Homo sapiens: one gene and its partners. The protein of the gene in region 1 purifies or fractionates together with the protein of each later gene. This does not show direct contact. Each region holds a gene or a part of one and is shown in the gene's direction. Other genes may lie near its edges. The genes, in order: BHLHA15, ZCCHC9, PRDM10, PHF10, ZNF638, YBX3 and LBR.

Region 1 (4,350 bases):
ATGAATTTCGGAAGCATTTTCATTTCCAAGGACCTCATTTGGCCCAGCCTCAAATGAGCTTTAGGCCAAGAGAAGAACTAACTAACCTTGGCTCCAAGCTAGCCTTTCTGTGCCCGCCCCCCGCCCCACTATGGCCCCTCTGAGTTCCCACCCAGAGGTACTGAGACAGAGCGGCGAGACCCATGAGTGTGGAGCCCAGGCCTGCCAGCCAGCGTGACACTCACCGCACCCCCAGCAGCGTGCAGTCACCGCACCCCTAGCAGCCCCGAATAGTCCCTGAGCAAGATGCTGCTTTGGCTGGGCGTGGTGGCTCACGCATGTAATCCCAGCACTTTGGGATGCCGAGGCGGGTGGATCACTTGAGGTCAGGAGTTGAAGACCAGCCTGGCCAACGTGGAGAAACCCCGTCTCTACTAAAAATACAAAAATTAGCTGGGCGTGGTGGTGCATGCCTGTAATCCCAGCTACTCGGGAGGCTGAGGCAGGAGAATCGCTTGAACCCGGGAGGCGGAGGTTGCGGTGAGCCGAGATCATCTCGCTCCATTGCACGCCAGCCTGGGCAGCAAGAGCGAAACTCCGTCTCAAAAACAAACAAACAAACAAAACAGGCGTTCCCAAGGACTGCACACCTGCCCAAGGAGCCCCCCACCCCCACCCCAACTCGGGCTCCGCCCCCAGCCCGTAGGAGCCCCAGGTTCCCCTAAACATCCCGGGCGGCGGGGCGGGGGATCCCCTGGGAGATGCCCGCGTTTTCGCGGAGCGGCTCGTCCCGGAGTGCTCCTGGGACTTGGGATCTGTGTGCTGAGCCTGAATCGGGGCTGCCCCTCCTTCCGGCGGCTCCCAGAGACCTGTTTCCCATTGGCGGAATGGGCCCGGGCCCCGCCACGAGTGGAGAGGCCGGGCAAGGAGGATCGCGGGAGGCATGGATGCGGGGGTGCTGTGTCAGGGGGAGGGTCGGGGAAAGCGGGCGGGGGGAGGCTGTCTCGGGCACGGATATGGGGTAGGCGGGTGGGAAAGGCGCGAGTGGAAATTGAGGGGGAGGATGGGGAAAAGCAGGTTGTGGGGAGGCTGTCGGGGGACGGGAGTAGGGGAGGTGGGGACGCAGGCTGTCTTGGGGGGGCTGTAGCGGGAGAATGGGGAGAGACGAATGGGGGGAAGCTATCTCGGGGCGGTTGGGGGGCTGTCGGGGGAGGATGGGGAGAAGCGTGTGGGGGAGGCTGTCTGGGGGAACGAGGGTCGGGGGCTGTCGGGGGATGGTGGGGAGAGGCGGGCGGGGGTGGCTGTCTTGGGGGACGAGGGTGGGGGGCAGTAGGGGGAGGATGGGGAGAGGCGGGCGGGGGAGGTTTTCTATCTTGGGGGCGGGGCGGAAGCTGGGGGCGGGGCTGCGCGGCCACCTGGTCCGGGAGCCCCAGGCGCCGGCCTCCCGCCCGCCCGCCCGCAGGTGCCGCCACTGCTGCCCAGCGCCCGCCGGGACACCCGGACCCCGGCCCCGCCCCGGCCCCGCCCCGAGGGCTCATTTGCATGCGTCCGCGGCCCCTCCCGGGGCGGCTAAAGCGACGTGTCCTTGTCCCCCGTGGGCAGCCTCGGCGCGTGTGGCCGCGGATCCCCAGGTAACCCGGGAGCTGGGAACTCGGGTGGGGCCGCGGGGAGGGGACCCAGGGGCAGGACCTGGCGGTGGGGTTGTGGGGGTTGTGGGGGCTGTGGGGAAACCCGGGTGGGGGACTTCTGGTCTGTCTGGAGGCTCCACGGGGCCCATCCACGTGGTGGGATTGGGGGCTGCCGCCAGGCCCTGGCCATTGCCGACCTCTGACCTCCACGGCTGCCCCATGTCCGCAGCGGTTCTGGCCCCAGTGCTGTCCCATGTCCGCAGCGGTTCTGGCCCCAGTGCTGTCCCTGCACGTGTCACGTCCAGCGGGGCAGGACAGTGAGAGCCTGGTGGCTGGAGTCACTGCCCGCCCACGGGATGAAGTCAGTGCCGCCTCCGGCAGAGGCGCCCCCTAAGCTAGGGTGGGGGACGCATTCTAGGCAAAGTGTCAAAGGTCACCGAGCTCAGGAGGCACTCTGGGGGCAGTGAGGGGCATGAGCCAGAGGAAGATCTAGGGGTCAGGATGAGTCATCCTGGGGGAAGGGGGACGCAGGGACAGGGACAGATTCCAGAGGTCTGTTTGAGGTAAAGCAAGGGCGTGGGTGTGTGTGGGGTCAGCCCAGGGCTAAGCGTGTGAACAGAAGGACCTCCAGTCGCAGAGCGCCAACCCCTGCCCCTGGTACCATTGCTGTCAGCAAGGAGGAGGCTGCCAGGGACGGCACCCCAGCGGGTCCCCTGCCCATGTGGGGTGACCACAGAGTGTCCTGTGTTCTGGATTTCAGCTCCAAGGGCCTCACCTTCCTGCCGCCACCTCCTAGGACAGCCAGTCCAGGGCCATGAAGACCAAGAACCGGCCCCCACGGCGCCGGGCCCCGGTGCAGGACACAGAGGCCACCCCCGGGGAGGGGACGCCCGACGGGTCCCTGCCGAACCCGGGGCCAGAGCCGGCCAAGGGTCTGCGGAGCCGGCCGGCCCGGGCCGCAGCAAGGGCTCCGGGCGAGGGCAGGCGCAGGCGGCCAGGACCCTCCGGGCCCGGTGGCCGTCGTGACAGCAGCATCCAGCGGCGGCTGGAGAGCAACGAGAGGGAGCGGCAGCGGATGCACAAGCTAAATAACGCCTTCCAGGCCCTGCGTGAAGTCATCCCCCACGTGCGCGCGGACAAGAAGCTCTCCAAGATCGAGACGCTCACGCTGGCCAAGAACTACATCAAATCGCTGACGGCCACCATCCTGACCATGTCCAGCAGCCGCCTCCCAGGCCTGGAGGGGCCGGGCCCCAAGCTCTACCAGCACTACCAGCAGCAGCAGCAGGTGGCTGGGGGTGCGTTGGGGGCCACGGAGGCCCAGCCCCAGGGCCACCTGCAGAGGTACTCCACGCAGATCCACAGCTTCCGAGAGGGCACCTAGCGCCCAGTCCTGGGTGGGGGTGGCGGTGGCCGCAGCTGCCTGGCCTGCTCCTCCCAGCCCCAGTCCCTCCAAGCCACGAGCCCCAGATGGGCGGTGACACCCCACAAGGACACGGCCTCAGCGGTTCCATTTTCCCCCGAACATTCAGCCACTTCCCTGGAGCAATTTTTCCTGCCCCGCTGGGGACCAGCGAGTGGCCTAGTTGCGGCTGTGGCCCTGGACAGCGGCGTGAGGCCCAAACCTCTAGGTAGGGCCCAGTTGGATCCTGATTTTTCATTGAGCCAGGCAGTCTCAGCCCGAGTTGAAAGGCCTCCTTAGCCTTGGAACTAACGTCTCTTCACCCTGACTTCTGGGCAAGGGGAGATCCCAGGAAAAGGTTTACCTGCAGGTTTTCCAAGGCCAAAGCCCCAGCAAGGACCCCCTCTCCAACCTTTGTTATAGGGCTACATGGGGCCTGGGCTCAGCATCCTCATTTGGGGTAAACTGAGGCCCGGGACAAGCCCGGCAGAGCCTAAGGCTGCTCGGGGAGTGGGGCCAATCAGAGATGATTGGAGCTGCCAGAAACTCTAATCAGATGACCTCCAATTCATCCTTAAAAGTTGAATGGTGGGGAGGGGCTGGAGTCTCTTCCTCCCTCCTCCCAAGTTGGGGCTCCTGGATGTGTTGACTCCAGGCTGTGCCTGGTTGTGGAGGGTCTGGGGCAGGGTGTGAGGGGTGCTGTGGAACTGGAGCAGGAGACAGGGCTGGGTGTTCCTGGTGCAGCCCTTCTGGGCATGGGAGAGAAGCCCCAAGGCCCTGGGTTGCTCCCCAAGAGCAGCTCTGAGGCCTCCTGCTCAGCCCTGGCCTGTGTGGGGAGCGAGTGTGCCCCCCACCCAGCCCCTGCCACCGCCGTTACTTATTCTCACTGATGTGGGGTTATCATATAATTGGCACCATGCTGTCTGTAGGACATTATGACGTGCTTGGGTTCTGGTTTGAGTTGGCAGCCCGTTGGGTCTCTCTGCCTGGTGGAGCCTTGGGGTGGCAGGTACGTCCCTTCCCCCGCCCAGGTGCTTCATCCTCATGGCCAGGCCTGGTGGCTTGGCACGTCTCTGCTGCCCCAAGCCCAGCTTCCTTCTGCTGGGCGTTCCTGCCCCACTGGCTCTGCCGGACTTGGCTACTGGACTCTCCCCTCCCTCATGCCTCTGCCCAGAGATGTCCCAAAGGCCCTCAGGGCCAAGCCGGGCCAGGGATGTGGCTGCCACAGCTGAGACCAAGGGCTCTGGCTGGCCCGTCCCCACCAGGTGGCCCTGCCCTCCCCAAGTTGGGGGTTGTGGCACTTGGGGTCAGGCCTAGCCACGTAAGGACACAGGTAACACC
Region 2 (4,323 bases), on another chromosome or scaffold:
CCTGGGCGACAAGAGCCAAACTCCTTCTCAAAAAACAAAACAAAACAAAACAAAAAAACAAATACGCAGTGAGCACCAAGGATGTACCAGGCAATGAGGATACAATAAACTTACACAATTATTGTGTAATTACAAATGTGAACCGTGTCATAAGAAAGTATAGACTGCCGTGAGCACACAGTAGGGGATTGGTCTAGTATGGGGGTAGGGGGCTGGAAGGCTTTCTTGAGAATAAAATACTTAAAGCCTTGAAGGGTGAGTAGAAAGTAACTGGAAGAAGAAAAGGAGTACCATACAAAGAGACTAGCAAATGTAAAGGCCTGGAGATGGCAAGGTACACACGGCATTTGAGAAATTGAAAAAATGATCCTATGCACGGAGCTCAAAGGAGAGACTGAGCAAGGTGAGGCTAGGGAAGTAGGCAGGGACTTCATAAGGAGTTCGAATTTCATCCTAAAACAATGGGAAGCGAAGGGAGAGTTTAAAGCAGTACAGCAGTACTGCTTTAAATGTAATGATTTACATTTTCAAAAGTTCCGTTCCTACGACACGGAAAATGGATTTCAGGGAGTTGGGGCAGAATGAATCCCCAGACCAGTTGTAGAACTACAGGTACAATATGGGACAAGGGAGGAGGTGCCAACAGAGATAAAAAGAAGTGGACAAATATTCAAAAGGTTAAATGGATTGAGCAAACTGTTGAGAGTAGTGGTCCTGGTAAATTGCATTTTTTCACTAGGCACAGCTGGTGGTGGTATCCATTTGCAAGAAGCTACAGAAAATGAGCCGTTTGGAAATCCAGGGTTTTCCTCTTAAAAAGAGAACTTGTTTGGCTACAAAGTGTTAACATTTTAATTGAATGCTCAACGAGCACTGAAGGGGGGACATGAGGCACTGCCTCTCACCCAAGAGAGCCCCCAAATGTCCTTTTCAGACTTTTATCACAGTGACCCACTCCCACCGCGCCTTTACCTTGCCTCTGCCTGGAATGTCCTTAACTCCCTCTTGCCGGCAATTTCACCAGATTTTTGATTTCTTATCCAGTCTCACGGGAAGCCTTTCCGGCATCTCCCACCCTACCGATCTTCCCGTCTATCTCGCCTGCTACACTGTGAGTTCAGACAGCACGGATTGAACTCTTCATCTTTTCGTGTCGGCGTCCTGCACAGGGCCATCCCATCACTAAGCGCGCCACAAACTCAGCCCAGTATTGACGCCCACGAGTCGCTTGTAAAGACCGTCTGTGACGCCGGAAGTGACGCGCTCTCGGGCACTATGTGCTTCCGGTCTCCAATACCGCAGGAGGGCGGTCTTCCCCGGCTCGCCAACTCGGCTGCTCTGGGGGATTCGTGCGCGGTAAGAAGCTGCGCGGTAGCGCGGTGAGGTGAGGTTCTCAGCCACCAAAGCTGCAGGGTCTCGTCGTTCGTTCCCTCTGGCCTGGCGGAACTTGCGTGGGAAGCTGGGAGGACAGAAGGCTTAGCCGCTGGGTCCCTGAGCTGGCTGGAGCGCGGGCTGTCTAGGGGCGGCGACCTCAGCTGTTGGGCTCCGGCTGCTGGGGGCTGTGCGTCCAGCCGCCCTGGAATCCGCCTGTGGGTGGGCCGCTTGGCTCTCCCACTTCACCCTCTTGATAACCCAGAGCCTCCCCCTTCCCACGTACGTAGGGGAAGGATAATCTACTTCCTTTTGAACAGCTTCGGTCCCCACTATGACAGTCGCATAAACTTCAGCGAAGAGTGCGCTGGTAAAGTGGCATGGAGTTTCTCACACCAATTCATTGGGTCCACCCTTCAGCTTCTGTGGAAGGGGTCTTTCTGTTACTAGGAGCTGAGACTTGGGGGGTTGCCAGGGATGCTGGTCTTAAAAGGTGATAATTTAGGCCGGGCGCGGTGGCTCACGCCTGTAATCCCAGCACTTTGGGAGGTCGAGGCGGGCAGATCTCCTGAGCTCAGGAGTTCGAGACCACCCTGGGCAACATGGTGAAACCCCTTCTCTACTAAAATACAAAAAATTAGCTGGGCGTGGTGGCACGCGCCTGTAATCCCAGCTATTCGGGAGGCTGAGGCCCGAGAATCGCTTGAGCCCTGGCGGCAGAGGTTGCAGTGAGCCAAGATCGCCCACTGCACTCCAGGTTGGGCTACAGAGTGAGACTCCGTCTCAACAACGACCACAACAACAACAAAAAAGGTGGTGGCTTAATACAGCCATGCTCCCCTTAAGAACTGGTATAGTTATGAGAAATGGTTGGGCCGTTTCGTGGTTGTGTGAACATCATAGTGTACTTGCACAAACCTACACAGCTGGGCCGTATGGGATAGCCTGTTACTCCTAGTCTACAGACCTGTACAGTATAACTACTAAATACTGTAGGCAGTTGTAAAAGGATGGTGTGTATCTAAACACAGAAAAGATACTGTAAAAATATAGTGTAAAAGAAAACATGGTACAGCTGAATAGGGCACTTACGCATGGAGCTTGCAGGGCTGTCGGTAGCTATTAAGTGAGTCAGTGAGTGGTATGTGAGTGTGAAGGCCTACGATATTATTTAGGGTATTACTGTACACTACTGTAGACTTTATAAATGCGGTATGCTTAGTCTAAGTTTATTAAAAATAAGGTAATAACCTTAGCTTACTGTGCTTTTTTAACTTTATAAACTTTTAAATTAATTTTAACTCCTTGACCTTTTTTTTTTTTTTTTGAGACGGAGTTTATTCTCTCTGTCTCTCATTTTTGAGACAGAGTTTTGCTCTTGTCACCCAGGCTGGAGTGCAGTGGCGCAATCTCAGCTCACTGCAACGTCCACCTCTTGAGTTCAAGCGATTCTCCTGCCTCAGCTTCCCAGGTGGTGCGCGCCTGTAGCTGGGACTACAAGAGTGCGCCACCACGCCCAGCTAATTTTTGTATTTTTAGTAGAGATGGGGTTTGACCATGTTGGCCAGGATGGTCTCGATATCCTGACCTTGTGATCCACCTGGCCTTGGCCTCCCAAAGTGCTGGGATTACAGGCGTGAGCCACCATACCCGGCCCACTCTTTTGTAATAACACTTAGCTTAAAATGCTAATGTGTTGTATAGCTATATAAAAATATTTTCTTTATTCCCTTACATTATTCTATAGCTTTTTCCTGTAAAAATTTTTTTTGTTGTTATAAACTAAGACACACACATTGTGCCTACACCGGGTCAGGAGCATCAATATCACTCTTTTCTTCCTCCACATCTTGTCCTACTGGAAGGTTTTCAGGGGCAGTAACATGAATGGAGCTGTCATCTCCTATAATAACTGCTTTTTTCTGGAATACTTATAATTGTCTAGTATTATGTACAGTACATCATTGTAAGCATTATGCTTGTATATGACTGGCATCCCAGGTTTGTTTACACCAGCATTACCACAGACATGAGTAATGTGTTACACTACAAGTTATGAGGGCTACAAAGTCAATAGGAATTTTTCAGCTCCATTATAATCATCTGAGACCAGTATCATGTGTGCAGTCGCTGTTGACCTAAATGTTATGTAGCATGTGACTAGCTGATGAATCTTTGATTATGGCTGAATGTTCTCATTCATTGCAGGAAAAAAATATCCTCCAAATCACTAGGTAGTATGTAAGTGACCAAAACTTTTTTCCATTTTATGTTGGAGCCAAATCATTAGTGTTAGGATAAATTACTTCTTTATGTATGTGCTCTAAAATGAAAAGTTATTTCTGAATATTAAAGCATATGTATTAAGAGTATAAAAACAAGATACAGATTTTGGTGTGAAATATATCTTATGATTCAAGTCATAATTTAAATAGAATTGAAGATGATGTGAAATCACTGGGCTGGAAGTAGCTTATACCTTGATTAGTAAGAGGAAGCCCGGGATCATCCTGTGATGGTAAACACTTTTATATGTTTTACTTATAACTTTGCCAGGAAATTTCAACAAACTTCATATTAAAGGACATGATTTCTGTATACTTAGTAATCTGCTATGCAAATTGTTGCATTGAAATGGCAGACGAAGCAAGAAGATTGGGAGAAAGTAGCTGTGGGACTTGGAGATAGGAAAATAAACAGCCGGGAAAACTGCAGAATGTGGGAGGAATAATTGCATTCATTGTATTACTATCTGATTTATATTTTATGAAATAATTTGGTTTCTTAAGATAGTTTTTCAATTTTAAGCACACCTTTTTTAACTGGTGTGGCAGCTTTTCTGGTAAGTGGTAGATTTATGTTAGAAGCATGTCTATGCAGCATATTATAGCATTAAATATGTATACAGATATCTAACTGAAATAAAAAGTGTTTTAATAATTAAAAGTTTAA
Region 3 (4,671 bases), on another chromosome or scaffold:
AGGCCAAGGCGGGAGAATCACTTGACGTTAGAGTTTGAGACCAGCCTGGCCAACATGGGGAAACCCCATCTCTACTGAAAATACAAAAATTAGCCGGGCGTGGTGGTGCATGCCTGTAATCTCAGCTACTAGAGAGGCTGAGGCAGGAGAATCGCTTGAACCCGGGAGGCAGAGGTTGCAATGAGCCCAGATCTCACCACTGCACTCCAGCCTGGGCAACAGAGCGAGACTCCGTATCAAAAAACAAAACAACAAAACAAAACAAAAAACAGTAAAGAGAATACTATTGAGTTAATTTTACAGTTTTTCACGCTGTGGGTGTTTTCTATTCTCGTCTTTTGCTTAGCTGTCCTGTCTCCCTCTTTTTCTCAGGCAATAGTTTAGGATTTTTGTAAGTTATATTGTCAGTACTTCTCATTTAAGTTCCAGACAGTGTGCTAAGCAAAGCACTTTACTCGGTAAAGTAAGAGCTCACTTAATCTTCAAAATAACGTAGCAAGGTAGATATCACGAACATAGCAAGGTAGATATCACCGAAGGGAAAACCGCTCCCCGAAGGTCCGAAGGTCCAAGGTCTCTCTGCCATCTAGCTGCCCTGCGTATTGCCTGCCAGTGGGTAGTTGGAGCTGGGTATCTCTCCAAAGCTGGGCTCTTGGCTGCCCTTTGTGAAGGCAATTTTAAGGGACAGCAGGATGTGGAAGCCTGCGGTTAAGGAGTGAGCTGAGTCACTGGGTAACCAGTGTTGAATAATGTTTCTCAATGTCTGAAATGACACTCACTTCCTTTCCAGATTGGTAGAGGAGAAAAAAGAGGCGCAGTGAAAGCGCTCTCAAGGTGCGGTGGGTCAGGGTGATAGGCGGCGCCCGGCCGCTCCCTGGGGGTCCTGAGGGCGAGACCCCGGCAGGCTCCCGACTCCGGGAGCCGGGCGGGAGTTCGGTTTTCGCCGGCGCTCCACGGCCAGGCCACTTCGGAGGCAATCTGTGGCGGGGCGGGCGGACGCGAGGGCCGCCTCACCCCCGCGCGTCTTCCGGGACACCGGGCCCTCGGGCGCGCGGGAGGCGGGCTTAGCACGGGCGCAGGCTGCCCTCGGCGCCCGAGACACCCAGGCACAGCTGGAAGCTTCCTCCCCGTTAGCACGCGGGCCGCAGCGGGGGCTTGACCCCAATGCGAAGAGTCGGGTTTTCTGATTGGCTGAGAGTAGAAACGCAGGCGAGCGCCGCCTGAGACCCGCTCTGCGATTGGGTTTTACACGAACAGCAGAGCACGAAATAAAGAGGCCTTCAGTCATTGGGCCATTATGTGAATCTCCTTTTGGCTTCTCTGCAGACTGAATAAGCGTCTCAGGATCTTCGTCATGACTCCTAAATCTGGGCCTGTCAGTTCGCCCCAGCGTTTCTCGTCTCTAGGCACGGCATGGGGCTTACAGAGTTTAACCAATCATATAACGTCGAGATCAGGTTGCCAGGCAGATTATGCTAATAAGACCCCGCCTTTTATGCTGCTCCCACTCTGCGGCGGGAAGAACCACCTGGAGGTGGCGGGGGGGGTTGATTTCTATCACCCCTAGGGAGAGAGGATCGGGGACCCGCTGATCTTCCAGCTCCCCTCACCCAACGTCGTGTAAGTACCTAAAGGATTAAGGGAACCAGATAAGCCAGGGTCCAGACTACCCCATAGACTGGGAGGGTGTTTCGTCTTTGCTTAGTCCCACCCAAAATGGCGCCCAGCTCTTTCCGCGTCTCAGAGCCCGGCCGGGGCCAACCGACCGCGGACCCGGGTGGGGGGGGAATTGATGGTGGTGGTGGGGGGGAGAAATCCCGGCGGCACCGCCCGATGGTACAGTCCAGCCGGGGCTGGGACGAGGCACCTCACTCGGGGTGGGGGGTCAAACCATCTGCACCTTCCAAGGGGAAGAGGGCAAGGCCCCCTCCAGCAGGCCCTCCTGGCGCCGCGTTCAGCGCCGGCCTCGGCGTCTCGTCGCCCCTGCCTTCGCCGCGCGCAGCCTCCCCCTGCGACCCCCGAGTGGCTCGCACGCTCCGCCGGCCGCGCGCACCTCTCCTCCCCTGCCCGCGTTGGTTGGGCCGGGACGGCGGTTGGGCGGCCTGCGCGCTCCGGCGGCGGCGGTTGCGCGGGCGCTCCGGGCGCGGCGGGCAGGTCTCCGCCGGCCGGGAGCCGAGCACCGGGGGCTGGGGGCCGGGCGCCGGGCTGGGGGTGGCAGTGCGGGCAGGGCTCCGGGGCTGGCCGGTTGCGGGCGCGTGGGGCGGAGGGTCCTGTTCGATGGGGCGCCCAGCTTTGTCTGCGGAGGCCGCGCCGCCCACTTGCCATCGATGGCTGGGCCCCCGGCCTGCCTTCCCAAGCTAGCGTCCGGGACCGGGGCGGGGGGCCGGCCCGCAGGGGTGTGGGGTGGCCCCTGCGGGTCTGTCCCGTGGCACCGCGTCGGGGCTGGCCGGGCGGAGGCGGAGGCCGAGGCCGGGGTCGCGGCCCTGCCCCAGTCCGCCTGCACCCAGGGTGCAGCGCAGAGGCAGGGCGAGGCCGGTCGGCGCTCGGGAGAGGGCTGATGGTGTGCACCTCTCCAGCCCCTCGCCAGCTTTTGTTAAGCAGGTTTAACCCTGCAGCTAGGTGTTGATACTCTACTAAGTAAAATGGAATATTCCCCGTCTGCCCTCCAGCCACGCGAACGCAGCGCTGTTGAATTTGTGTGCGCGCCTTTAGCCTTGCTTGGTGGATGAGTTGGATTTTAGTGCATTTTCAATCAATGTGCGTGTACACTTAAGCACAAGGAGAGGTGGCTTTGTGCTGTCATCGAGGATTAGATGTGTGATGAGACCCACCCAGCTCTGCCCTGTGCCCTAATTCTGCTGCTTTGCCTGTTGAAACCTTGCCTGTCTCGTCACCCCAAATTCTCTAAACTTAGCAGTACTTAACCTTTATTAAAAACAGCAGAATCACTCATGACTGTTTTGTGGCCTCTTTTTCTGACCTGTTCTCTTTGTTTCTATCACTCCTCCATCGCTGTAAGGCAAGAAGGTGTATTATTACATTGTATTTTTTTTGTATCTTCCTACCATTCCAGCATCACAATAGCTTCCACTTTGATGAGCAGTACTTATTTGTTGTTCTAGAATAGAGAAAACAAGATTTTTTTTTAAAATTAGGATTGGTTGGGGGCAAAGCAGCGTTTAAACAGTGTTTATTCAATATGGGGTATTTAGAAAGGAACTTTGCTAGGTTTATTTAGGAGACAGGGTCTCTGGTTGCCCAGGCTAGAGTGCAGTGGCGCGATCTTGGCTCACTGCCGACTCGACCTCCCGGGCTCAAGGGATCCTCCTGCTTCAGCCTCCCTAGTAGCTGGGACTACAGGCGTGCACCACCACGCCTGGCTAATTTTTCTACTTTTTGTAGAAACGGGGTTTCATCATTTTGCCCAGGATGGTTACGAACTGCTGAGCTCAAGCAATCCTACCGCCGCAGCATCCCTAAGTGCTGGGATTGCAGGCATGGGCCCCCGCGCTCGGCCTTTAGGTTTACTTTTACAATAAATTGAGGTGAAGTTGACACAGAATGAACCATTTTAAAGTGAACAGGGACGTTTAGTGAAAGGATTACATTTTTGTTTGTTTTGGATCAAGACAAATGTCTTGTGCCTTCTACCCCGTAAGCTCCCACTCTGCTATGCTGTTCCTCGTTTTGCAAGGCAAAATTGTTTTGCTTTTTCAAAGAATTCATTTTTAGTTTTTCTAATATTTTGTAGCATGCTCCACCACATATTAATCATATATTGTATGTCAATGTAATTGAGTATATATTTTAGAAAAAGCAAGGTTCCTGTCTTCAAGGGCTCTGAATGGTTTTTACTTAGAGGTTATGGAGGTATAAAGGATAGCACAACTCAATATAATCCCAAATTGATTGGCACTACCTAAGTTTCTGCTTGCCTGTTTTGTTTTTCCTTCTAGTTTTAAGAATAATGCGTGATCATTGGAGAAAACATAAAATTTAAGCCGGGCGCTGTGGCTCATGCCTGTAATCCCAGCACTTTGGGAGGCGAGGCGGGCAGATCACCTGAGGTCAGGAGTTCGAGACTAGCCTGGCCAACATGGTGAAAGCCTGTCTCTACTAAAAATACAAAAATTGGACGGACATGATGGCAGGCGCCTGTAATCCCAACTACTCGGGAGGCTGAGGCAGGAGAATCACTTGAACCCGGGAGGCAGAGTTTACAGTGAGCTGAGATCGGGCCATTGCACTCCAGCCTGGGCAACAAGAGCGAAACTCCGTCTCAAAAAAAAAAAAAAAAAATTTAGAAGCGAGTGAAAAAAAACAAAACCCATAATTACCCAGAGATAATCTTTGCTGATACTTTGGTGTATTTCAAGTTGGTTTTGTGTGTGTATAAAATATTTGTACAAACGACATAATCTTGGTTTAATATCTAGTTTTTAAAACAAGACGTAAATAGGTGTCTAAAGACTTTGCTGATGATTGGGCACTTTCATTACTTCCATTATTTGAAGGGGGCATCATGAAGTCCGCCGAACTAAAAGAATTATAATATTTTGATTTCTTGTAACTTTTTAAAAGCGTAATCTAATTGATAGGGATAGGCTTCTGGATAACAAACATAATTCATCAAAGGGCTGAGAAGTACTGAGCTATAATTTTGGTTTCCTC
Region 4 (3,871 bases), on another chromosome or scaffold:
ATGAACTAGTTTAGTATAGTTATTTATATGACCTTCTTGCTTTGGATTATTCTATTTCCTATTTTATTCTAACTTTTGTATCTTGCTGAGTTTTATTTCTTGAATTTATAAATTTTTTTGTAGCCCCTTTAATAATATTTGGAATATGTAATATGAATACTTTAAAAAGTCAAGGTTTTTAAGCTTTTAAAAGTTTTACAAGTGCATAAGGTTTTGCTGTTTTTAATAGTCTTTTGATCTTTTTTTTGGAGATTTAGAGCGACGAGATTTGTCTCACAAGGAGAAACTCTACCTGAGAGAGCTAAATGTCATTACTGAAACTCAGTGCACTCTAGGTAAGAATAGCTTTTTAATGTGAATTTTTCAAGCTGAACATTTATGAGATAATACTAGATAAGTATCTTATTTCCTAAAATATTTTACAAAATTAATAAAATAAATTGAACTATTTAAATGCTACATTATTTACTTCATTTTTGATTATTGTTAAAATACACAGGAGAATGAAGCTTGAACACACATGTGGTTCCTGACTTATGATGGTTCAGCTTCATGATGGTGTGAAAGCAATGCATATTCAGTAGAAACCATACTTCAAGTGTCTATACAACCATTATTCTTTTCACTTGCAGTATAATATGTAACAAGTCACATGACATATTCAACACTTTATATTAAAATTTGTGTTAGCTGATTTTGCCCAGCTGTAGGCTAATGTAAGTTTTCTGAGCATGTTTAAGTTAGGCTAGGGTAAGCAAAGATGTTTGGTAGGCTAGATGTATTAAATGCTTTTACTTTTTAGGATAGTTTCAACTTAGGATGGGTTTATCATATGTAACCCCATTGCAAGTCAAGGATCAACCTCTATTCTATAACAGAGTATAATTGTCTAATTTTTCTCTTTTTTTTAACACAGAGTCTCTCTCTGTTGTCCAGGCTGGCATGCAGTGGCGCGATCTTAGCTCACTGCAACCTCCATCTCCCGGGTTCAAGGAATTCTCCCTCAGCCTACCGAGTAGCTGGTACTACAGGCGCATGTCATCACAGCCATCTAATTTTTGTATTTTTATTAGAGACGGGGTTTTACCATGTTGGCCAGGCTGGTCTCCAACTTCTGACCTTGTGATCCACCCACCTTGGTCTCCCAAAGTGCTGGGATTACAGGCATGAGCCACCATGCCCAGCCCTTGTCTAATAATTTTTACAGAGTTTTCAGAGTGTTTGTATTTTTTGTACAAAGCTTGTACAATATATTTTTTTAAGTTGCAGGTTCTTTGCTAAGTGCATGGTGTGTGCGTGTGGTCCCAGCTACTTGGGAGGCTGAGGGAGGAGGATCACTGGAACACAGGACTTTGGGGTTGTAGTGTGCTGTGATCATGTCTGTGAATAGCCACTGCACTCCAGCCTGGGCAAGATGGCGAGACCACATCTCTAAAATGCAAAAAGGCAAATTTTCTTCAATTTTTAGTTCTGTATAATTATGTCCGTGCTTTATTTGTAATCTTTTTTTCACAAACATTTTAATGCAACATGGCTACTTTTTATATAAATTCTTGGGAATGCATTTTAGCAATTGGTGAAATCTGATACTGTGAGTTTTGAAAATTGTCTCCATGGTGTGTGTGTGTGTGCTGATGTTTTTGGTGAAATTTTAATTGATTGTAATATTTCTTGTGTATGGAATTTGAAGACTGGGAACTATAATATGTTGAATTTTTTTTTATTCATCTAGTATTCTGTAGTACTTGTTAGTAGTTAGTGCATTTCATTATTTAACAGTTGTTTCCAACTAAAGGGATATATGTTCAAAGCACATAGAATCTTAAAAATAAACTTGTTTGGTTGAAAAATTGATATATTTGCCTTTTGCAAGATAATCTTTTGATTGCTCGAGTTTATATTGTGAATATTAAGTTTAATTATTTTCAAATGTACTAAGATATTTTGCTTTGGCTATTGGAAAACCATTACAACGTGGAGCGGTTTGAAGAATTAAATTTTGAAGAGTGCTTTTGTTCACTTATCCTTAAAAGAGCTTCTTTATTTTTTTATTTTTTGGTCTAAAATAGGCTTAACAGCATTGCGCAGTGATGAAGTGATTGATTTAATGATAAAAGAATATCCAGCCAAACATGCTGAGTATTCTGTTATTCTACAAGAAAAAGAACGTCAACGAATTACAGACCATTATAAAGAGTATTCCGTAAGTAATTGAGGTGACTGGCATTTTTTATTTGGGTTGGGGAAAATGACATTTTAGAAAGTTATATGTGACTTCCAACTGTATTTTTTTTTTCCAGCAAATGCAACAACAGAATACTCAGAAAGTTGAAGCCAGTAAAGTGCCTGAGTATATTAAGAAAGCTGCCAAAAAAGCAGCAGAATTTAATAGCAACTTAAACCGGGAACGCATGGAAGAAAGAAGAGCTTATTTTGACTTGCAGACACATGTAGGATAACTTAAATTTAGTACCCCCTGAACTTAGTTTATTACTTGTTATTGCAGAGTGCCCATCACCCCCTTTATCGTTATTTTTTGTACCACCTATGTGTGTGTGTTTTTTTTGTTTGTTTGTTTGTTTTGTTTTGTTTTTTGTGGCAGAGTCTGTGTAGCCCAGGATGGAGTGCAGTGGCATGATCTCGGCTCACTGCAACCTCCGCCTCCCGGGTTCAGGCGATGCTTCTGCCTCAGCCTCCCCATTAGCTGGGATTACAGGCGCCTGCCACCACACCCAGCTAATTTTTTGTATTTTTAGTAGAGATGGTGTTTTACCATGTTGGCCATGCTGACACCTGCGTGTTCTTTTTTTCCTCAGAAGTTGAGATGTTATTTTTAATGGTGTGCTTAATAATACTCAATTTACATTTTTTTGTGAGATGTCTTTTGCTTTACGGTTAATAATTCTAAATGAGACTAATAATAGCTACATATCATACTTGCTGTGCGTCCCAAGAGTTTTTAAGAGATTTGCATGTTAATTCTCATAGTAACCATGTGAGGTTGGAACTAGGATTACTTCCATTTCATAAAGAAATTGAGCTACAGAGAGGTCGTATAAGCTACCCAGATCACTCTGCTGTTAAGTAGTGAGCAAGAGATCCACTGCCATTCCTCAGGAGAATAGGCCTTTAAAACAATAATATATAGAACTGAAAGCACCAACTGTCCTCTTAGGTTATAGCTCCTGATATCTCCTAAAATTTTAGCTTTTCGAGGGGGAAGTGGGCGTGCAGTGGTGAGCACGTGGGGACTCTTCCTAAAGCCTTGATTCTTAGCATGGAATCAGTTTTGTGTTTCTCTTTATGTTAACGTAGGTTATCCAGGTACCTCAAGGGAAGTACAAAGTTTTGCCAACAGAGCGAACAAAGGTCAGTTCTTACCCAGTGGCTCTCATCCCCGGACAGTTCCAGGAATATTATAAGAGGTATTTAGTAGTTTTAGTTACAGTTGGTATCGGCTATTGGTAAGGGGTTTCAGAGCCTTTTGTACTTGCCTCCTAACAATTTTGGGGTCTATAGATATCACCGTAAGATATCGTATAGGATTTGTGTTGCTATTCTTCTCTGGTTCTGTGGTAAACAATACCCTGTAGTCAGAATTTGAATATATGCTGGTGAAGTCTAGATGCCTCTGTCTCTGCCCATTCTGTTTGGGTTTGTTAGAGACAGATGCTGGGGGTTCTGTAGCACCTCACTGCTCAGGGTATGTTCCGTGGTCCAAAGCACTGTTATTGCTCAGAAGCTTGTTGGAAATGCAGAATCTCAGGCCCAACTCTAGACCTATGACTCAGAGTCTGCATTTTAACAGATGTCTGTGTGATTCATGTGCAGGTTAGAGTTTGAGAAACACTGACTTTTACTGCAGAGAAGA
Region 5 (3,871 bases), on another chromosome or scaffold:
CATTACCAATTTGCCAATTTAATTATTTTAACTATTGTATTTGTAACAGTATGTGTTTAAAAATAAGTATAAATATGCATCCTGACATCAAAAGACTTTTATAGCCTAGTTAGACTAATGGAATGTCAGTTACTAAATGCACTAAGTCTGTCTTGACTAGAATGATGTGGGAGAGAAGACTTCATGGAGTAGGTTGAAGATGGGTCTTGAATTGAGGCTTTAGATATGCCTGTATAAAGAGGAGGAGGGGGCCGGGCACAGTGGCTCACTGCCTGTAATCCCAGCACTTTGGGAGGCCGAGACAGGTGGATCACCTGAGGTCAGGAGTTCAAGACCACCCTTACTGACATGGTGAAATCCTGTCTCTACTAAAAATACAAGAATTAGCCGGGTGTGGTCATGCGCACCTGTAATTCCAGCTACTCAGGAGGCTGAGGCAGAGAATCGCTTGAACCCAGGAGGCAGAAGGTTGCAGTGAGCCGAGATCGCGCCGCTGCACTCCAGCCTGGGTGACAGAGCGAGACTCCATCTCAAAAAAAATAAAAAAAATAAAAAAAAAAAAAAAGAAGAGGAGGGTTGGCGGCAACAACATACAGAGAGGCAGAGGTCCGGAGAGAAGACTACATTTCATTGTGGTAGGAGGCAGTTGGGAAAGAGTGATGAGCGTATTAGAAATAAGTACGAAAGGCTTTGAAGAGCTAGCCTAGGAGTTTAGACTTGAGGTGAGAGGCATTAGAAAGCTAAATAAGTTTGTTGATAAGTGAAGTGACATGTTGGAAGTATATTTTAGGGAGATCTGACTGAAGTATGCAGGGTAAATAGAAATGAGATGATGTGGAGTAGGACTTCCACTTGGAAGCTTCTTTAATTGTTCAAGTATAAGATGGTAAAAACCTGGGTTAATAGGATAAAAGTAAAAATTTGAGAGGAAAGGAAATCATTTAGTCATCATTAGAGCTCACCTAGATAGATTGCCATTAAAAAACAGACACACCTTTTAACAGCACAACAGAATGGGGCTCATCTAAGTAATGAATTTTTCACTACTAAGTGGCCAAATGATAGGGATTTGTGAAGATGGATTTCGATGGTACACACTGCCTCTCGTTTCTGTGATATATTTTGCAGCCTCGTAAGTGTTCCTGTGTGTGTATATATGACATAAATATGAAGCCAATAAATGTAAATTACCAATTGTAAACTTTTTCCTATTGAGTAAATCTGACAATATGTATATTCCCCACCTTCGAGTCTTTGAAACTATAGCTGTGAAGATGTACTTTGAGAACGTGAAATGTATTTGCTTGTTAAATTGGGGTTCAGATTTTAAAGGAGAAACTTCCCTTGGTTTAGGAGCTGTGTCATAATGACTGAAATAATTCAGTTTGAGAAAGTACCGACAATAAAAAATTGTTGAGAATAGTGAGTGAGCCCTGATACGAGTAGTTATATATTTTCAGTTTCATTCTGAGCCTGCCTAATTCTGTGCAGTCCTTGCAGCATCTCCTGCTAGTAGGTAATTATCACTTTTTCTCTGGGGAGGCAGTGCTGCTTTTGGACTATAATGTGGAAACTATTACTAGAGAGTCTAGAAGTTGGGGTGGGATGGGTGTGTTTACTGAGCTTAAAGCAAGTAATGTCAATTTGTGAAGCAAGCCTAAGAATGTGTGTATGTGTGTTGAACTGAGAAGAGTATATCTTAAATAGGGCAGCCATCATCTTCAGGTGATAGTTGCTGTAAGAATGATATCCTGTATTACTGTATCTTCCTATTTTTTCAAGAAAAGCTGGAAATCTGGACTTGCGGGTAAAAATCTCTGGATTATTAAATGTTGGCAACGTATTCAGATAAAACACTTTATGGTTCAAATAAATCATGCCCAACCCACTGCCTGCACCAGTGTGTCTGTTTGATGTAAACAGTGTCCAATTAATATTAAAAATATGGGTTTTAGTACTACTAGAGACTCTTCTTCTAGCTTTCTATTTGTATTATTAAACAGGATGTACAAACATTTCTTTTTTGTAGTCCACAATCAGTTCCATGGCTTAATGAAATAGTTTAGGATTTGTCATACCTTGTTGCTGAGTTTAAATTGATGCTGAGCATTGCAAATCAGTGTACCTTCTTTCAGATAGTTCTTGCCAAGGCAGAATCCAAAATTATTGTCAACCGTGGTTTTAACTGTGGAAACTTCTAATGACCTAAACTAAAATGTATTTCAAATGGAAACAAATAATAACATTTTCCTTAAGCAAAGTGTTGAAATACGAAGTTATTTAGTAAGTTTTCTGCCTTTCCAAATGCTGGAGGAACAGTAAAACATTGAGTAACATACATATTGCTTTTAACTAATTGTTTCACCTTGGAAACTGTATCTTTGTAAACTGTATTGGCTTTTTTTTTTTTTTAACCAGATGTATCTTCCAGAGTTATTTATGGGTACACATTGTAATTTTAGGACAGATTTATTTGTAAATGAAGTAATGTATAAGAAAGCATTTTGGGCTGGGCATGGTGGCTCACGCCTGTAATCCTAACACTTTTGGGAGGCCGAGGCAGGTGGATCACCTGAGGTCAGGAGTTCGAGACCAGCCTGACAAACATGGTGAAACCCTGTCTCTATTAAAAATACAAAAATTCACCAGGCTTGGTGGCACATGCCTGTTAATTCCAGCTACTAGGGAGGCTGAGGCAGGAGAATCACTTGAACCTAGGAGGTGGAGAGTGCAGTGATCCGAGATCGCCTCATTGCACTCCAGCCTAGGCAGCAAGAGTGAAACTGTCTCAAAAAAAAAAGAAAAGAAAAAAAAAAAAGAAGCATTTCGTTAATTGTAAAGCTCAAAGCTCTATATGTAAGGGATATTGTATCTTTGAAATGTTGTTACTTTTAAATTTTGAAAATAGATTTGATCAGTAGCATTTTTCCCCATGTTTTTCCTAATCTTATTTGCCAGTATAGTGAGTACCTTGTATGGAATGGTACTGGTCTATCAGGTAGCATTTTTATTTTATTTTTATTTTTATTTTTATTTTTTTGGAGACAGAGTCTCGCTCTGTCGCCCAGGCTGGAGTGCAGTGGCGCAATCTCGGCTCACTGCAAGCTCCGCCTCCCGGGTTCACGCCATTCTCCTGCGTCAGCCTCCTGAGTCGCTGGGGCTACAGGTGCCCGCCACAACGCCTGGCTAATTTTTTGTATTTTTAGTAGAGACAGGGTTTCACAGTAGTGTCGATCTCCTGAACTCGTGATCCGCCCTCCTTGGCCTCCCAAAGTGCTGGGATTACAGGCGTGAGCCACTGCGCCCGGCGGCATTTTTTGATTGTTGATGTTGTTAGCGTGAATTTTAGAGGTATTTGTCATTGAAATATTGTATTTTGAAGATGCTGTTTCACAGATACCGTTTTACTTATAGATTTTTTGGTGTTTTCTGGTGTGTTGTTTTTATATTTGCAGTAAGTTTTTTCTGATCCATGCTTTTATTTTCTCCAAGTTTATATATTGATTTCAAAATGAGCATCCACGGGTATGATTTTGAAAATGTTTTCTGTACTAAAATATTTTCAAATGGGATCAGTGAGGTATGGTATTAAGTGCATTTGTTTCAAGGCCTTTAATTTTTGTTTGTGAAAATTTTACTGAGCAGCCAAATGCTATTTATGAGTACGTTTGTTTAATTTTTGAACAAAATATTATTTGTCTTTTTTAAAAGCCTAATTCATTAGTCAACATGAGGAATATTCTAATTTCAACACTTTTCTCCTTTTACAATAGGATTGGATTCAGCATCAAAATACATCTACTCATATTGAGAGCTGTCGACAGTTACGTCAACAGTAAGAATATATTTTTCCTTTATTATAGATAGCATA
Region 6 (3,871 bases), on another chromosome or scaffold:
ACAGTGAGAAGGAGCAGCCAAGGAGAATGTATTTCAAGAAAGAAATGTGTTAAATGCTTGTTGATAAGTAGAGATTAAGCTGAGAATTGATTATTAGATTTGGTAACTTGGAGGTCAGTGGTTTGGTGAAGACAAAAGTTTAAATAGAATGAACTTAAGAAACAGCAAAGGGCGGGAAGAGGAGACATATTCCCCATTGAGGTTTCTGTAGTGGTGGTCATGGTGTTTGGTTTTTCTTTAGTATGTATGTCTGTAAAGAAATGGGGTAGTAGCTGGAAGAAGATAAGGGATCAGAGCAAGATTTTTGCTTGATTTGATTTGCTTTTTACAATGCAGAGTTACCCCTGGTCTCTCCCTTACCCGTTACCTCACCAACAACTTCTAAAGCCATTAAATGGGCAGATCAAGGTAGGCACGTGTGTTTGCCATAAACCCACATATATATATACACACATACATAGACACACATATATGTGTAACATTGTGTGTGTGTGTTCCATGGTTCTGTCTACTGAAAGGTCCTGAAAGCCGTGATATCTTAGTAACAGCATTGAGCATACCTGTCCCCCAATTTTTTGTTTTTAAATAACATTCTCAAACAAAAAGAATTCCCTTTGGAGAAATGGCTGATTTCAGAGCTGGGACAGAGAAAGTATAATATGAGCCTGGAACATCTTGTTGTGCCAGAAAGCGAAGAAGTACTCAAAGAATGTTGGAAACACATCAATAGGATATGAGCCAGCTTGAAGGGGTTCCCATTGGCCAGTAATGATAGTAACAGATTACAACTCATTGAAAAAAATAGAAAACCATGAGTCCATACAAATATAAATAAATAAACCAATATATTGAAAAATTTGATAACGAATAGTATATTTATGCACTTTGTAAGTACTTCCTCACAAAGTACTCATTAATTACAAAGAAGGAAAGAGTCAACTTACAGTGGAGGACTCTGGTGGCAGATACCACCTTAACCACTTATCAAAGTGAACATTATCAGTAATGGCACAAATTGAAACTATATGCCACCTGACAGGATGCAGTGAGGAGAATGCAGTGTCACTTTTGTGACATCCCCCTGGGGATGCAAAAACAATATCTAATCATTAGTGAACACCAATAACCCAAGTTGAGGGATATTTTACAAAATAACTGGTTTGTAATCTTTAAAGAAGTATCAGGGTCATGAAAACCAACGTGGTGGCTCATGCCTGTAATCCCAGCACTTTGGAAGTCTGAGGTGGGTAGATCACGAGGTCAAGAGATTGAGACCATCCTGGCCAACATGATGAAACCCCGTCTGTACTAAAAATACAAAACATTAGCTGGGAGTGGTGGCACATGCCTGTAGTCCCAGCTACTTGCGAGGCTGAGGCAGGAGAATCGCTTGAACCAGGGAGGCAGAGGTTGCAGTGAGCTGAGATCGCGCCACTGCACTCCAGCCTGGCGACAGAGTGAGACTCCATCTCAAATAAATAAATTAAAAAAAACTGCTCCAAACAAAAAGATATAACTTACTTTAGTGCATAATTCTAAACGGTGTTTTTGCTATAAAGGGCATCATTGGGATAAATGGTGAAACTTGAATGGGATCTGAGAATTACATTTAACTTTTCTGTAACTTTGTGCTTATTTCAAAATTTTAAAAAATTGAAAAGGATGGGTGCTATTTCACTGGGTATATATGCTTGGATGGAAATGATAGAAAAGGTGAAAACATAGTGAAGGGATAGCGTTAACATGCTGTGTCTAGTTGATGAGAATAGAGAGGCTGTTGGTTTCAGATATGAACTTGGACCACTTACCCAGGGTAATGGGAGAGAAGAAAATTCTAATGTAAATACAGGGAGCTGGGTAGATTTGCTAATGAGAACGTGGAAATTGTCTTCTGACTGTTTCTCTTTCTTGATGAAATAATGAAGGACAGTATTTGGCTCTTAGGGGGAGGAAGGGATGTTTTGAGAAAAGAAAAGAAAGTTGAGTTATGGCTGTATGGTCAAGAATTGCAGACATTGTTGGTGGGTTTTTTTGTTTTTTTAAGTTGTTCTTTCTTTCCCCTGGAAGTTGTACAATAAGTTAATTTTATTCCACTGGCTTAAAGTAAGTTTGTTGTAAAGAAAAATAAAAGAGTATTTTATTTAAAGAGATGAATGAAATGTATCCGATTTCAAAATGTTAAATTGATAGGCGAAAATAAAGTTAGGTGCTCTGGGACTAAGCAAATGAGTATTCTAGTCAGACTAGGTTTGTCTTCCTTTTCAGTCGTTCACGAAGATTTACTCATAAATAGTTTGTGTTGCAACTGAGAGTGCCTAATTTTGTAATGAAGCATTTTGTTTTTTACTTCTAAAAAAAATTCTGAACATAGCTGTATGCACTGTATCTTATCCCCTGTGCTGTGACACTCACTGTCAGCTCTCATTGCCTCTCCAGGCTGGTGAGATTGGAGAGATGAAGGATGGAGTCCCAGAGGGAGCACAACTTCAGGGACCGGTTCATCGAAATCCAACTTACCGCCCAAGGTACCGTAGGTATGTCGCATTTTCCACTAATGGCCAGTTAAAGGACTTGTGTGCACAATGGTAGAATGAGGACTGTGTGGTTCCGTTTTGTGGATTTATTATATATCTAGAAGATGTGAATGCTTTGACTACATGCCAGAGTTTTCAGGTGGTGGTGTGACATTTCCCACCTACTTAATACTAGAATTTTTAGTTATCTCTGCGCCAAAGCGTCATTTTGTATTCTGGAATTATAATAAGATGTAAATTAATACTTAATTTTTATCAAAATAAATCAGATAAATTATTGGTGGGCAATTCTGTGGTAATGCTGCAGATGGAGGAAGAATTGAGTGTCAGAGGATATTTGGGATAGTGACTGTTAATCACTGAGGCAGTCCAGTAGAGGGGTTAAATCAGGGTATGATCAAATCGCCTGAATTTATCTTCCTACTCTACAGTTCATTAGATGTATGTTCTTGGACTGCATTCCAGCCTGCGCAACAGAGTGAGACCCTGTCTGAAAACAAAGAGATATTCTATAGTTGGGGATTAAAGGTACTAATGCAGCTAAGATAATTAGTGTGGTACCTGATAAAGTAAAGGCCTCACTATGTATTAGATATTATTACCACCATTGAGGTTAATATTAGTGAACGCTGGGTTATTCTATTTGTGCTTTATTCCTTTGGAAGACTGAATTAGGCTAGACTCCTTCCATAAGATCCCTTTGAAGCATTTTATAATATAAGCCTGCCCATTCTTTTATCTTACCCTTTGTGGTAAGTGGAAAAGCTACAACTTCTTCCTGAATGATGTTTATGCTACCTTGAAATTTGTCAGTATGGCTTTATTGAAGGATAAAAAGTATATTATATTGGGAAAGGATTCCACCAATATAATTGTAAAAGGATCGTATCCTTTTTCTTCACAAGGTTCCCTCCAGCTTTAGGCATAATCACTAATGATTAAGTACTAGGGACTTTGAAAATAAAAGAGACGGCATAGAAATGTCTTACTGGAACAAAAAGGATTCAGTAGCGTGTGAGGCTCAGCTTTGTCAGTCCCTGGATATGTGATCTTGGAAAGTCATATTTGACCTTTTTTAACCTATAAAAGCAGCACTTTTATATAGCTCAGCCGTATACTTTATCATGTAAACCTCTTGGTTTTCTTGTTATAAATCTCATCCACAGAATTACCATTCAAATTAAATATTTAATTTTAAAACCGACTAGCACAGGCTCTGGCACATAATAATGTTTCTTCTCATGTTTAATTCCCTTAGTCTCTGCTAAATTCTGTTCATGGAAGGCAGATACCAGACTACTCTTCTTTTCTTTTTTAATTTTCCTATTCTTAGTGCT
Region 7 (3,871 bases), on another chromosome or scaffold:
TAATATTTTAGTTTTTAAAAAAGCAGCGTTCAAATTTGAAATAGATGTAGCTTGTAGATTGAACTGCGTAAGGTTTTTACAGTGTATAAAAGTTCATATCATGTATGAAATGGTAAGACAAACCTGTATTACGGAAACATTCTTACTCTTAGCATCATTATACTTTATCACTTTACCTATTCAAAGATGATTTTAGTGGAATTACTTTCAAGATGTAAGCTTTGAAATATCAGGGTGCATGGAGCCTGTAGATCTTGTACAAATAGTATTTTAGATAGTAGACCAAAGACAAAGTATGTTAAGTAAAAAGAATAAAAGTAATCTTCTATTCACTTAATGTTAACCTCTTTTCTGGATAGAAGGCACACAGACTTTGAGACAGAGTCTTGCTCTGTCACCCAGGCTGGAGCGCAGTGGCGCAATCTCAGCTCACTGCAAGCTCCGCCTCCTGGGTTCACGCCATTCTCCTGCCTCAGCCTACCGAGTAGCTGGGACTACAGGCGCCCACCACCATGCCTGGCTGATTTTTTGTATTTTTAGTAGAGACAGGGTTTCACCGTGTTAGCCAGGATGGTCTCGATTTCCTGACCTCGTGATCCACCCGCCTCGGCCTCCCAAAGTGCTGGGATTACAGGCGTGAGCCACTGCGCCCGGCAACAGACTTTTAATAAACTTTAAAAACTGGATTATATACATACTGCTCAGTAGTCAGCTTTAAGACATTTTAAAATATTGGGATAACCTTTCAGAGTGTATTTTTCTACATCATTTTTGTTGTTGTATTCTATAGTATGGATATATGGTAAATTGTATACATGTAACTTAATCGTTAAAGTCAGCTCTGTCAATGATAGACATTTAGTGTTTTTCCTTCCATATTTTCACTATTACAAACAAGTATTTTTATGTAACATCTGATTATTTCCTTAGGATGGATTCTTACAAGTGGAACTGCTAGGTCAGCTGTATGGTGCAGATTTGAGGCTTTTAATACATATTGCCAGATTGCATCAAGAAAGTTTATAGTAGTATCAGTGTATGAATGCTCAGTTTCTCATTCTGAGTATTATAATTTTTTTTTTTTTTTTTGGAGAATGTGGCTGTCAGACATTTTCAACTTACTGTTCTAACTTATATTTTGAATTAGAACATTTTAACTATTAGTGGCTCTCTTTACCACCCCGGGACTCCAGGAACAGATGCTGTGTGATACTTTGTTATCCTTTCATTTTTAATATTTAGTGACTGCTATATTTTTACAGTGTAATCTTACAGTCCTGGTGTCACAAGAACCACAGAAGCTTTGCCTCTTACCTGGTAGTGCCTTGGGCCTACTGTGTGTTGCATAAGTACCCACTATTTCTTAGTTTTCCATTATGGGCTATTTTGGAGCAGTGAATGTCTTTTTGAATGTCTTTTGTTTTTTATCCAGTTAATGAACTAATTTACCAATTTTTACTTTCTCTGCCTTTCATAGTAAATACCCCTAAAATCTATCAATGAAATTATGACATTCAGTCTGATTACGTGAAAGATCAAAGTTGTTTTTTTTTTTTTTGAGGCGGAGTTTCATTCTTGTTGCCCAGGCTGGAGTGCAATGGCGCGGTCTTGGCTCAATGCAACCTCCGTCTCCGGGTTCAAGAGATTTTCCTGCCTCAGCTTCCGAAGTAGCTGGAATTACAGGTGCCCGCTACCGTGCGTGGCTAATTTTTTTGTATTTTTAGTAGAGACAGGGTTTCACCATGTTGGCCAGGCTGGTCTTGAACTCCTGACCTCAGGTGATCCACCCGCCTTGGCCTCCCAAAGTGCTGGGATTACAGGTGTGAGCCACCGTGCCTGGCCAGATGAAAGATTTTATGTAGAAATCTATCCAATATTTCAGAGACTGGGAAATTCTAGTCAGTTTTATTCCTTTTCATTTTTAACAAAATGAGGGTTAAATTCGTCAGAATTAAGGCTGTGAAAAATCTGTTTTATTGCTTGATTCCAAAACAGTAAGTTTTTACCATCATGTTTCTTTTTAATAAGTTACAGTTCTTTTGATTAAATGTTTATATTCTTCAATTTAGAAGCCATTTGGAAATAGCATCAGCAGATATAATGGGGAGCCTGAGCATATTGAGAGAAATGACGCACCTCATAAAAATACACAGGTGGGAAAGTGTTCCCTTTCATCTTGGTTGTTTTTTTTTTTCTTTTTTTTGGTTAAAAGTGACTCTCCCTTGAGAAGCACATTGAAAATTGTAATATTTTATAACCTGTTCTAAAATTCTGTCCTTAAATTAAGACTGAATATAATTTCACAAATTTATTCTTACTAGTGTATAGCTGTATTGAGATGCTGAAATAGTTAATGCAGTAGCATTAATGGTAATTGTTCACTGCAGATATTTAATTTTTAAATTTTTCATTTAGGAAAAATTCAGTTTGTCACAAGAAAGCAGTTACATAGCAACACAGTATAGCCTTCGTCCAAGAAGAGAAGAAGTCAAATTAAAAGAAATAGATTCTAAGGAAGAAAAATACGTTGCAAAAGAACTGGCAGTGAGAACCTTTGAAGTGACCCCCATCCGGGCAAAGGACTTGGAGTTTGGAGGAGTACCTGGTAGGCCTCAGAGCTGGGCCCAGAGAGGGCAGGTGGGGTGAGCTAGGGGTGGTTGCCACAAGGTGAACTGGAAAGGCCTCTCTGAAGACATCTGAGGCAGGCAAGGTAATGAGCCTGGTGGGAACCTGTGGAAGAGCCTTCCAGAGAAGGAACAGTGGGTGCAAAGGCTTGAGGTGGGAGCATTTTGAGGGATTATGGAGTAGAAAGGATGCCATTGTAGCTGTGTTTAAAACTTTTAGCAGTCTGTTCAGAGGTTTTGAGCACAGAAGTACAAAGAAGTGATAAAGGAAGGTTGATCTGGGAGTTTGTATAGCATAGATGGTTACTTATCAGGGACAGAGAGCTCTGCTAATAGTCAGACCTGAGGCGGCAGGGGCCAGCAGTGGGCCTCAGCTGCCTGCATAAAATGGGATCCCGGAGGCTGCCCTACCTGCTAGGCGGGTTGATTGTGAGGGTCAAAGATCTGAAGTGTGCAGAGTTTTGGAGTTACTAAGTGGGTGGAACTGATGAAATTTTATGAGCTAGTAAAAGAAAAGACTTCTTGTCTAAATGGCTCAAAATCCTGCATGGCTTAATTGCTTTGTATTTTGTTATAACCTTTGGCTAGCTGGCCTGTTACAGATGCTGTCCAGCATCACTTAAAATCTGCACACATTACATGAACGTGACACTATTTTAATTGTTAGAAACTGAGGAATATAAAGTTTTTTGTTAAGATTAGGCTGATAATTTTTAGATGTTCTGATCTTCAGTTTGCTGGAGTTTCAACACATTCGCTCCTTAGTGGTTGGAGGTCAAATGTTTTAGAGCTTGGTTTCTGAGGTGGGTGTAGCTATTCAATGTTGGACCTCTTTCTTTTTTTTTTTATTTTTATTTATTTATTTTTTTTACTACTTTGATGCCCATGGTTGCCAGGCCACCAGAGGTGACAGGTAGAGATGGGAGTTTTTGATGGTACATTAGAAATTGGTTTCAGACAGTTAGCCAGATAACGAGTTCTGATCTTAACAAATCTAACATGATTCTTAAATAAATAAACCAGATTGAAATTTGAGCCTCGAATGTTCATGAATTGTTTGCAGGTGTGTTTCTCATCATGTTTGGCCTGCCTGTGTTCCTCTTCCTGTTGCTGTTGATGTGTAAACAGAAAGATCCCAGTCTTCTGAATTTCCCTCCTCCTTTGCCAGCTTTGTATGAGTTATGGGAAACCAGAGTATTTGGGGTCTACCTCCTGTGGTTTTTGATTCAAGTCCTGTTCTACCTACT

What was found.
Region 2: the proteins of BHLHA15 (region 1) and ZCCHC9 purify together in Homo sapiens (co-immunoprecipitation; 2 studies listed by BioGRID and IntAct, with this or other methods). This does not show direct contact.
Region 3: the proteins of BHLHA15 (region 1) and PRDM10 purify together in Homo sapiens (affinity purification with mass spectrometry; 2 studies listed by BioGRID and IntAct, with this or other methods). This does not show direct contact.
Region 4: the proteins of BHLHA15 (region 1) and PHF10 purify together in Homo sapiens (affinity purification with mass spectrometry; 2 studies listed by BioGRID and IntAct, with this or other methods). This does not show direct contact.
Region 5: the proteins of BHLHA15 (region 1) and ZNF638 purify together in Homo sapiens (affinity purification with mass spectrometry; 2 studies listed by BioGRID and IntAct, with this or other methods). This does not show direct contact.
Region 6: the proteins of BHLHA15 (region 1) and YBX3 purify together in Homo sapiens (affinity purification with mass spectrometry; 2 studies listed by BioGRID and IntAct, with this or other methods). This does not show direct contact.
Region 7: the proteins of BHLHA15 (region 1) and LBR purify together in Homo sapiens (affinity purification with mass spectrometry; 2 studies listed by BioGRID and IntAct, with this or other methods). This does not show direct contact.

The regions. Positions count from the first base shown.
Region 1 is NC_000007.14:98,209,889-98,214,238, forward strand, and holds the start of BHLHA15 (class A basic helix-loop-helix protein 15), read left to right. Parts: upstream 1-1,550; 5' UTR 1,551-1,610; intron 1,611-2,367; 5' UTR 2,368-2,421; coding exon 2,422-2,991; 3' UTR 2,992-4,350. UniProt on the Homo sapiens protein: Plays a role in controlling the transcriptional activity of MYOD1, ensuring that expanding myoblast populations remain undifferentiated. Repression may occur through muscle-specific E-box occupancy by homodimers.
Region 2 is NC_000005.10:81,300,315-81,304,637, forward strand, and holds the start of ZCCHC9 (zinc finger CCHC domain-containing protein 9), read left to right. Parts: upstream 1-1,272; 5' UTR 1,273-1,384; exon of another isoform or gene 1,385-1,741; intron 1,742-2,895; exon of another isoform or gene 2,896-3,889; intron 3,890-4,323. UniProt on the Homo sapiens protein: May down-regulate transcription mediated by NF-kappa-B and the serum response element.
Region 3 is NC_000011.10:129,999,671-130,004,341, reverse strand, and holds the start of PRDM10 (PR domain zinc finger protein 10), read left to right. Parts: upstream 1-1,506; 5' UTR 1,507-1,620; exon of another isoform or gene 1,621-1,718; intron 1,719-4,671.
Region 4 is NC_000006.12:169,714,287-169,718,157, reverse strand, and holds part of PHF10 (PHD finger protein 10), read left to right. Parts: intron 1-251; coding exon 252-335; intron 336-2,069; coding exon 2,070-2,203; intron 2,204-2,300; coding exon 2,301-2,450; intron 2,451-3,315; coding exon 3,316-3,425; intron 3,426-3,871. UniProt on the Homo sapiens protein: Involved in transcription activity regulation by chromatin remodeling. Belongs to the neural progenitors-specific chromatin remodeling complex (npBAF complex) and is required for the proliferation of neural progenitors.
Region 5 is NC_000002.12:71,351,946-71,355,816, forward strand, and holds part of ZNF638 (zinc finger protein 638), read left to right. Parts: intron 1-3,773; coding exon 3,774-3,835; intron 3,836-3,871.
Region 6 is NC_000012.12:10,702,714-10,706,584, reverse strand, and holds part of YBX3 (Y-box-binding protein 3), read left to right. Parts: intron 1-2,436; coding exon 2,437-2,534; intron 2,535-3,871. UniProt on the Homo sapiens protein: Binds to the GM-CSF promoter. Seems to act as a repressor. Also binds to full-length mRNA and to short RNA sequences containing the consensus site 5'-UCCAUCA-3'. May have a role in translation repression.
Region 7 is NC_000001.11:225,417,997-225,421,867, reverse strand, and holds part of LBR (delta(14)-sterol reductase LBR), read left to right. Parts: intron 1-2,069; coding exon 2,070-2,153; intron 2,154-2,415; coding exon 2,416-2,605; intron 2,606-3,687; coding exon 3,688-3,871. UniProt on the Homo sapiens protein: Catalyzes the reduction of the C14-unsaturated bond of lanosterol, as part of the metabolic pathway leading to cholesterol biosynthesis.